3 separate regions of the Homo sapiens genome follow, and all the other regions are reported to be linked to region 1. Evidence: microRNA targets listed by miRTarBase, many of them from high-throughput screens and not tested one by one. Region 1 holds a microRNA gene; each other region holds the end of a gene's coding sequence.
Evidence for each region. The annotated mature microRNA hsa-miR-7157-3p reads UCUGUGCUACUGGAUGAAGAGU and lies in region 1 at 1,882-1,903, shown strand. An mRNA with a match to its seed (bases 2 to 7 or 8) in the 3' UTR can be bound and repressed. Matches are read on the target gene's strand: a 7mer-m8 pairs with bases 2 to 8, a 7mer-A1 pairs with bases 2 to 7 and ends in A, and an 8mer does both.

Region 1 (3,261 bases):
TTTAGTTATTTTATTTTCTTTGCCATTTTGCATAAGTTTTAGAATAATCTATCCACATCTACAAAATGTCTTTCATATATCTATAGTGTCGTCAGGTATATTCTCTGTCTAACTTTTTTAGCAGTTGCTTTAGGTACTGCAGTATATATTCATTACTTATCAGTCTACAAGCATCACCATTTACCCAGTAAAGCGAAGCATAGAAACTTTACATCCCTTTATGTTTCTTTAGCCTCCCCTGTTTGTAATATAATTATCTTCAAGATTTACTCTGCACACAACAGTGTTAGATTTTTTTTGCTTCAACCATCAAACAACTTAGAAAACTCAGTATAAGGAAAGCCTACTTTTATGTACCCGTATTTTTGCTCACAGTGTTCTTTCTTTTTTCTTGATGTTCACAGGCTTCTTCTTTAATTGCTTACTTCCCTATTGCTTTCGAAAATTCCTTTTGTCCATTCTTTGCCATCTGTTGTGGCATATTATCTTAATTTCCTTTCATCTGAGACTGTTTTGATGTTCTCTTTATTTCTGATATTTTCACTTGGCATAGGTCACTGGGTTGACAGTTTTCATTTCATATTTGAGAAATATTGGGCCACTTCTTTCTGTTCTCTGTGATTTCTGATGAGATATCTATTATTATTAAAATTGTTTTCTTCTATGTAACATGTCATTTCCCCCTCGCTGCTATTAAGATTTGCTTCTTGTCTCTAGTTTTCAGAAGTTTATTTTTATTTTTAATCAGCAAATAATAATTGTGTATATCTCAGGAGTACAAGGTGATGTTTTGATATATGTATGTATTGTGGAATGATTCTTCAGGCTAATTAACATGTTAATCATAACACCCATGTACTTACTAATTTTTGTGCTATTTATCTCCAAAGTTAATTTCTCGTGTCTAACTGGAAATTTGTATCCTTTGACCAACATCTTATTCCCCATCCCATCTTCACTCCAGCCTTTGGTAGCTACTATTCTACTCTCTACTAATAAGAGTCTGACTTTTTAGATACCACGTGTGAGCTCATGAAGTATTTGTCTTTCTGTGTCTGGCTCATTTCATTTAGCATAATGTACTCCAAGTTCACCCATGTTGTCACAAATCACAATTTCAGAAGTTAAATTATGATGCGTCTTGGGTTTATAGTCTCTGAGCTTTAGTCTGCTTCTCGAATCTGTAGGTATATGTCTCTTGCCAGATTGGTGGTTTTCAGCCTTGACATTTTTCAAGTCCTTTTTAGCCCCACGCTTTCTCCTCTCCTTGTAGGACTCTTTGACATGAATGTTAGGTCTTTTACTATAGTCTCACAGGTCACTGGAGCTTCGTTCAGTTTTCTTTCTTTCTGCTTTTTCTTTGTTGTTGTGACTGGCTATTTTCTATTATTCTACTTTTTAGTTTACTGACACATCTTCCATTTCCTCCATTCTGCTGTTGAGTTTATTCACTGAACTTTTTATTTAAGTTATTTTACGTTCAGTTCTAAAATTTCCATTTTGTTCCGGTTTCTTTCTTCTATTTTTTTTACTGAGATTTTCCATTTCTTTCCTAAAGCCTTTATTTTTAAAAAAATTTTATTATAGCTACTTTTAAATCTTTTTCAGATAATTTTTACACCCCTGTCATCTTGGTGTTGGCATCTATTAGTTGTGATTTTTTCAGTCTCTTTGAAATCTTCCTAGTTCTCGGTATGATGAGTAATTTTGTTTGAACTTGAACATGTTCTACTGCATGTATCTCCGTATTTTCAACCCTTCTGTTTTTAACTGTCTTTCCCTGACATCGGTCTAGGAGGGGAAAGTGAGGGGTGCTACCCTATCGGAGTAGCAGGTCCCCCATTCAGCATTCATTGGCACCAGAGATGAAATTGGGACTCCTCTGTGCTACTGGATGAAGAGTGGGAGTTCAGGCTACCTAGATGGCCTCTACAGTGTCACCTAGAGGATGATGGTGGAAGTCCTGACCCTCCAGTGAGCTGCTTCTGACACCACCTCAGCAGAGAAGGGGTGGACACTTCATTACCATCAGGGGTGTGTGGAAGCCCAGGATCCCCACTTGGCCTTTGCTGGTGTGGGTGTGTCACAGCCTTTTTCCTGTGGTGGCTGGCTATAGTAAAGTTTTCTGCTGTGCTTGCTAGGTTGTTTCTTTCCTGGTCTTTTAGCTAGAGAGAGCAGATTATTATTTTTATTTTTTCTGTGTATGTTGCCATTTCTGGGTTGCCAGCTTATACGATTTGAGTCTGAGATATATGAGACAAAATGACACTTAGGAAACACACTTCCATGGAATTTCTTGGTCCCAAGATACCCAGCTGGGTTGCTTTTTCTCTCTACTTTTATAGTCACCTTATGTTTGTTTTATGTATAATTTCTAGAGTTTTAAGTTGTACATAAGGATCAAGAAATGTCTGTCTAGTCCATTTTTCTAGGAGCATAAGTTAGTGTGCTCATAGATTTTTAGACATTCAGAATAGAAAAAAAGGGAAACATCTATTTGAGTTTTTTTAAAGACACTTTTAAAGATCTAAGCTGATTTATGTTCTATAAGTCTGTAAAACAAGGCCCTTGCATTGCCAATGAATTTAAACAGGAATAAGACTTATTAAAGACTTATTAAACACACATGATATGGCATGAGCTGCAGGCCAAAGACATTGAAATCACTGATTTTCCACCTAAGGGAAATAAAGATTATGAAAATAAAGATGGTTGATTGTGTTGTCTAAATTTTATTGTCTTTAATGATAATGTGTAGATGTGATCACAGAGTATATAATAAAGTTTATATGAATATATGACATTGCCAAATATAGGTGTCTAAGTGAGAATAAGAAATAAGTGAAAAGAAAACTAAAATTAGTGTTAGATAACATTGTTTCAGTGTTGGACTGGTTCAAAAAAACTGTGTGATCTTGAGCAATTATTTTAATCTTTTTGAATCTCAGATTTGACATTTTGGGCTAGACTTAAAATTATTTTCCAACTCTAAGATCAGCCATTTGATATATATTTTATAACACATTCATATACATAAGAAGATGGTGCCACATCTTGAATATTTTAGACATGGAGGCAGTCTTGGTAGTAAAATAGAACATACTGCTTTTCAGGAAGCAGTATGATGTGGGAGAAATTAATAAACTTAGATTGTTTAGACATGAATTTGAAACTTAGATATAAGACCTGTTGTTTAGTAAGCCGAGGACATTTCTTAATCCTTCTACACCTTAATTTCTGCTGTAGAATATGACTAATAGT
Region 2 (3,261 bases), not on the chromosome of region 1:
TTACTGACTTACATCCAAATGACCAAGTGATTCCTCCCAAGTCTGGCCCAAAGCCAATTTCCTTTTTCTACTCCTGGAACCTCTGGAAACTAATCTCACAGTGTTGGAGTAGCTATTTTGCCATGGCTCTCAATCAAGAATGATTTAAAGTATGAATGGATATCTTGTTTTATTTTACCAGACAGAAATCTCAAATTACCAGTCACCTGGAAACTTCATTTACATTGTTTTTCCTCTTGAATATCTACTAGCAACTCCAGTAGAGTTTGGGAAACATGGTAGGAATGCTAACAAACTACCCCAAACTTTGGTGGTCTAAAACATTTTTGTTCGTAGATCTGCAATTTGGTCAGGGCGTAACAGGAATAGCTCACTTTGCTCCACCTGGGATCAGCTGGGATGGCTCAAAGACCAGAGACTAGAATAATCTGAAGGCTGCCTCACTCACATGCCTGATGGTTGATACTGGCTGTTGAATGAGCTCTCAGCTGAGGCCTTAGCTATAATGCCTACATGTGGTTTCCTCATGTAGTCAGGGCTTCCTCAGAACATGGTGGCTGAATTCCAAGAGTAAGCATCCTAAGAGGAAGAGGTGGGCAAAAGCTGTATTGTCTTTTCTAACCTAGCCTTATCCAAAATAATAAATACTAAGAATGAGTCACTAAGGTGGGCCTTTATTCAAAGAGAGGGGAATTAGACTATCATTTGATGGGAAGGTCAAAGAATTTGTGGACATGTTCTACCACATACAGAATCAGAAGTTATTCCATAACTTCTCTCCTTCAGCCTCTTTGATTGCCAATTATTTCCTAGACTGCTTAACTACCTCTCCTGCCCCACCATGATGGAACTGGTATGCCTCATAAAACACCTGAAGTTGCTCAAGGCTATGATGTGAAATAAGCACCCAGTACACCCTCCACCAACTTCCTCCCACTTTGTTTCTGCTTATTTATTTTTTTTGATGTCGTACATACCATATCCCCTTTAGCTTTTTCAAAATAAGCAATATATTGGCCAGGCGTGGTAGTGCATGCCTGTAATCCCAGCACTTTGGGAGGCCGAGGTGGTTGAGTCACTTGAGGCCAAGAGTTCAAGACCAGCCTGGACAACATGGTGAAACCCCATCTCTACTAAAAAAAATAAAATAAAAAATTAGCTGGGTGCAGTAGCATGCCTGTAGTTCCTGCTGCTCAGGAGACTGAAGCACAAGAATCGCAGGAACCCAGGAAGTGGAGGTTGCAGTGAGCTGAGATCGCACCATTGCACTCCAACCTGGGCAAGAGAGCGAGACTCACACAGTATAGTATGTTAAAATGAACCTTGGAAAAGATTAAGATATGTTCACGGGCTGGTTCAATTTTACTAATAATACACATTACAGACCTATTACACCCTGCTCCTGGGGGTGAGGGAGTTGGATTGAATCTCTAGTAAAGAACTAAACTTTCTGGGGGAATAATGAAACCATACCTTATAAAGTCTAATGCTCCTCTTCTACCTAAGCCAGCTGAATGTGCCCAGACAATGCAACATTCTTTGCTACTTATACAGAATCAAAATGTGTGAAACACCCCAGTTTCCAGGACTTAGTAGGTCACCATCTATTAGATCACAGTGTAGAGTCTTTAAAAAGAATCATACTAAGTCTCTGATTCTATAATTGCCCATAGGTGTTTGTTTGTACTGAATTTTAGGTATAATCAAAAGAACTTACTTAAGAGTACGGTGGGGAGGGAAAGGAGGAGATGCTGCACTGCTGAACACCAGCTTTGAGGAGCTGAAATAATGATGCCTGTTGCCTAGCAACCTTTTTTTTTTTTTTTTTTTTTTTTTTTTGAGACGGAGTCTCGCTCTGTTGCCCAGGCTGGAGTGCAATGGCACGATCTCGGCTCACTGCAAGCTCCACCTCCCGGGTTCACGCCATTCTCCTGCCTCAGCCTCCCGAGTAGCTGGGACTACAGACGCCCGCCACTACGCCTGGCTAATTTTTTTGTAGTTTTAGTAGAGACGGTGTTTCACCGTGTTAGCCAGGATGGTCTCGATCTCCTGACCTCGTGATCTGCCCATCTCGGCCTCCCAAAGTGCTGGGATTACAGGCGTAAGCTACCGCGCCCGGCCTGCAACCTTTACTCTTAAGGCACACTTGCCTGCTTGAAAGAGAGATCCTTTTCAACAGCTGTAATGCAAACATGAACCTAGTGAGTCAGCTGGGTAATGGGGTAACAAAGGTAGGGAACCAAATGACTTTCCACTAACTGAAATCAGAGCATCTCCTCCAAAAGATTAATTAAAAGACAATGAACACCCAAATCAAGCTGAAGTTTTATTTAAAATGTAAAAGAAATGTTCCCCCAAAATGCTGGTGAATAAAGCAAAAGGATACCATACAGTGCTCTCTTCCTACGAGTTAGCCAGCCTATCCAAGTACAGGGCGATATACAGTACTTAATGCTGGTAGAATTTCACAGTAGTTTAGTGTTAAAGATTATCTGTGCCTAGATTATGAAGAGATTCTCAGTGTGTGATGTTTAGTTCAGGGTTTACATCTTACTGGGCATGAACAAGAGCCCCTGCTCCTTGGCCATAGCCAAATCCCTTGGGCCCAAAGTTCTTTGCATAGCATCCTACAAAGGAAAGGGAGGAAGGATAGTTAGTGCAAGTCCATTAAGCTTTGCTAGCACTGCTTAAGACCCACTCAACAAACCCCCATAAATTAAACTGCTGTGTAAAAGAGCTCAACTTATTTAAGATGTTAAATGTGTCATGTACTAAATATCTTAAAGCTGCAAAGACAAGTCCACACATTCTGGCCCTATAGTGTTCAGCGTGGTCCTGCTGAGTTGCAAGCATGAGTCAGGCCAGGTAAGGTATGTATTTGTCTGTTTTCTTCCATATACTTACGCTTTGCTCAAGACATGAAGGCAAAAGATGGCTATTTGTGGTGTTTTTATCTGGTGGGGAGTTTTAAATGATCAGGAACTTAACTGTGGTTCTCTGTCATCTATAAGCATCTTGGGATATTTTATTTTCAGAAAATAGTGGCATACTTTTCTTTTTTTTTTTTTAATGCCAGTGACATTTCATTAAACAAGAACCAGTGTGGAATATTCATATGGACAGCAGTAACTGAAATGAATTTTACCTTTACAATAGATTTCACCTTCTTTTTCAGTCAGAGTTGTTGATTCAAGACTCTTCCCACACTTTGCACATCGGAAACAGTTTTTGTGCCAGGGCTGGAAGAGATGAATGTGTCAG
Region 3 (3,261 bases), not on the chromosome of region 1:
GACCTGCATTTCGGACCTGGTCGTGTTTGATTAAAATCTTACTACTTAGTGATCTGCACTGGCATCCCAACAACTGATTGCAGGGGCCAGCAGCAGGAAGAGCTGCTCTGATCTCACCATCCGCAGCCAAAACCAGCCAAAGAGCACCCATCCCAGGAGACTCAGATGCAGCTAGAAATTTATGCTAAAGCCTAACTCCTAACTATGCTGGACCTGCCCACAAGGGCAGATCACATCCTAGTGGTTCACAGGTCACACACAGAACAAAAGTTACAAAAGTCACCTCACAATTCCCGAAGCTCTAAATTGATTCATTCCCCACACGTGGTTTCCCTAATTTTATACTGATAAATCTATCAAATTAAAAGCTTTCATTTCCAACCACTTCAATAAGATAGACAACACCATGCTTAACATTTTTGTTCTCTGCCTAATTGCTTGCTTCTGCTAAACTTTGCATTTCCATGGCTAATAGGAAAGCTTGAACCCATTTTTCCAAAAGTTCCAATCTTGTGTTCTGATTTGAAATACTGAGTACACACCCCTGATGCTTTCTCTAAAGTTTCTTTTTCAAGATACTTAAGTCAATTCATATAACTGGTATAAATTCCATGGGAGCATCGAATTCCCAAGAGATTTAAATGTCTGTAGCGCCTACCATAGGTGCTTGCTTATACATTCAAGTGACCTAATGCATCTCCAATTAAGTTAATTATGTAACACCAATCAGCTGCTAAGGAGCCAGTAGGATCCTGTGGGTGTGTCCTGGCTAGTTTTTCAAAACATCTCTCATCCTTCATGGGTAGATTCATACTCCAAGGTAAGCTGGTGTTGGACCCTAGAAACCCCTATCCTGTCTCCTGGCTCTATAGGGAGTTAACAGCCCTCCTGGGACAGCTTCTCCTGGGCTCCAGTTTTACATTCAGAAGGACCTCACGACTCTTAAGAATGGCTTTGCTGAGTTGCTGGACACCATGATGTCTTCTCCTGCCCAGAAACGGCACGGTCAGCAATCTTCCACCAACCGGAGGGTGCAACTTGAGTTTTATTCTGGCTACATCATCCCAAGTCCTAGTATGAAACAGCAATGTGGCCAAAAATGACCATGTTCAAATAAGATACCTGATAACACAAACTTTTAAATCAGTTATGACTCAGTCTCTCATCTCCAGCCCAGGCACACAAAAAATACACAAATTTGAGCTAGAACTGTGCTAAGAAAAAAAGAGAAAGAAAAGAAAGCAAAAGAGAGAAGAAAAAACGTTGACAAAGACAATCTAAACTACCAACACTGACGTAAGCCAGACTCTAGAGTCCCTACTTTAGCGACTGCCATTTTTTAGTCTCAACAAAAATGTCAATATCCTGAGTTTTATCAGCATTTTCTGAAATAATTTATGGGACACAAAAGCATATAAATGAATAAACAGAAGCAGTGGTACAAAGTCTGGAAAGCCCACTAACCAGAAAAAGAAATGTCACAACAACAATATCAAAAGATGTATTTAAGAGAAATAAATTAAAGGTTAAAACCTTACACTTTCAAGTTTTCTTAGACAATTATTTTGGGAGATGGCATGGAGTTGATACATTTCTCTAATAATCACTTGGTTAAGATCAAATACCAAAATGAGCCTTCAGAAGAAAATTTTGACTTTAAAAGTAACAGCCCCATGGCAGCTATTTTGAACACAAGAGAAACTACCTTCTGAATTAATATTCCAAACCCTCATCAGTAGCTTGTGTCATCAAACTGTTAAGATATTTTGTTTACTAACTTGGTTGTCAAAATTGTATCCAAAAAAACACTAGCATCTGCAGAAACTAAAATTTTGGTACACAAGTTTCTCTACACCACTGAGTTGGGTTTTTAGAATAAAACAATGCCAATCTAAGCCCAAAGGTATCTCAAAAACATAATTCCTATGCTTTAGTTTTATTTTTGTGTTTAATCTATTTGCTTCCTAAATGTTATTTGTATTTTTTAAGTCAATTGGCCACACACTACCTATAAGATGTGATGAAGTTTCTTTACTTAACCTGACATTGCTACTCAAAAACTTGTACTTTTGGGGGAAAACAGTACTAATTATGTTAAAACAAAGTTTATGCCATATATAAAATCACTCCAAATTACACACTCATTGCTTTCTATAGCTCTACGAATTTATAATACATAATTTAGAAGAAAATCACAAATAGATTACCATAGGTGGCATTCAACTTTTCTTAATCCAATTCAGCCTATCCATTAAAACCAAGAACCTTCTGCGCGGCCTGCCAGTTCCCCATTCCTTTTGTCAACTTAAAAAAGAAGCATTTCTTGGGAAGTCAGGATTTATTAAGAACATCGGGATCCCAGATATTTCTTTTTTTACCATATACCTTAACATTTGGGGGATTTTGATTCCCACAAAAACCTCTATCATTTAAAACCAGATATTCGAATTACAAGGCTAACATTTTTAGCTAATCAACTCTTCAGTGCTGATCCCAGAAAATAGCCTCCAATGGGTCTTTGAGTCATGGAAATGGACAACTTTCAGCCATTGACATGAGTGGTGTCGGTGGTCACACCTTTAACATTCAAGCCACAAGCTCTAAAGTCTGGAAAGGGTGAGGTCTACTGTCCTGCATTGTCGCCATCTGCTGTCGTATTTTCAGTGCTAATGGACTGTACGTTGTCTGCAAGGTTGTGTGCATGCTCAAGAAACAAATCTTTGAGTACACTTAATTCCTTGGTCAGCAATTTGATTTTTGCTTCCAACCGTTCATTCTCTTCTTTGAGCTGATTGACTCTCTGCAGTGTGTCTTGTGCTTTCTGCTTGCTTTTCAACCGGCTCTTTTTCACAGCCATGTTGTTCCTCTCTCGGCGTTGCCGATACTCGTCACTGTTTCGATCCATGGGCGAACTCTTTTTGCTCTGCTTGCTGGGAGCCACAGCTTTGCCTCCTCCCCCAGGGCCAGCAGGCACCAGCTGAGGAACCTGCTGTAAGCCGCTGGCATGTGCCTGGGTATGGATAACACTAATTCCGTTCACCCCTGGAGTGCTGTTTTGCTGCGATATCTTGCTCATTTGGGCACTCTCCCTTGCCAACACAGAACAGGTAGAAATGAGAGCAGGGTGATCAATGGTTTCCACGCTAAGCTGCCAAAAAATCTTCACATGTACCTAGTTAAAAAATAAATTGCATTAAAATATTTGAAATGACAGGATCAAATGAGATCAAACTTGTACGTACCTAACATCAGGCCAACATT

Region 2: the mRNA of CSRP2 is a reported target of hsa-miR-7157-3p. Seed matches in the 3' UTR shown: 7mer-A1 at 2,492-2,498.
Region 3: the mRNA of CEBPG is a reported target of hsa-miR-7157-3p. Seed matches in the 3' UTR shown: 7mer-m8 at 1,210-1,216.

The regions. Positions count from the first base shown.
Region 1 is chr2:140,585,268-140,588,528 of GRCh38, reverse strand. It overlaps MIR7157 (microRNA 7157), which reads left to right and starts at 1,844; the gene lies at 1,844-1,903. The region is part of intron 43 of LRP1B (LDL receptor related protein 1B); the gene reads left to right. RefSeq lists a silencer at 2,016-2,065.
Region 2 is chr12:76,856,402-76,859,662 of GRCh38, forward strand. It overlaps CSRP2 (cysteine and glycine rich protein 2), which reads right to left. Exons shown (of 6, transcript NM_001321.3): 5 at 3,146-3,239; 6 at 2,308-2,627. The coding sequence ends at 2,551. Among named protein-coding and RNA genes, the nearest start is that of CSRP2, 21 kb to the right of the region's middle.
Region 3 is chr19:33,379,055-33,382,315 of GRCh38, reverse strand. It overlaps CEBPG (CCAAT enhancer binding protein gamma), which reads right to left. Exons shown (of 2, transcript NM_001806.4): 2 at 1-3,172. The coding sequence starts at 3,076. The coding sequence ends at 2,624. Among named protein-coding and RNA genes, the nearest start is that of CEBPG, 7.0 kb to the right of the region's middle.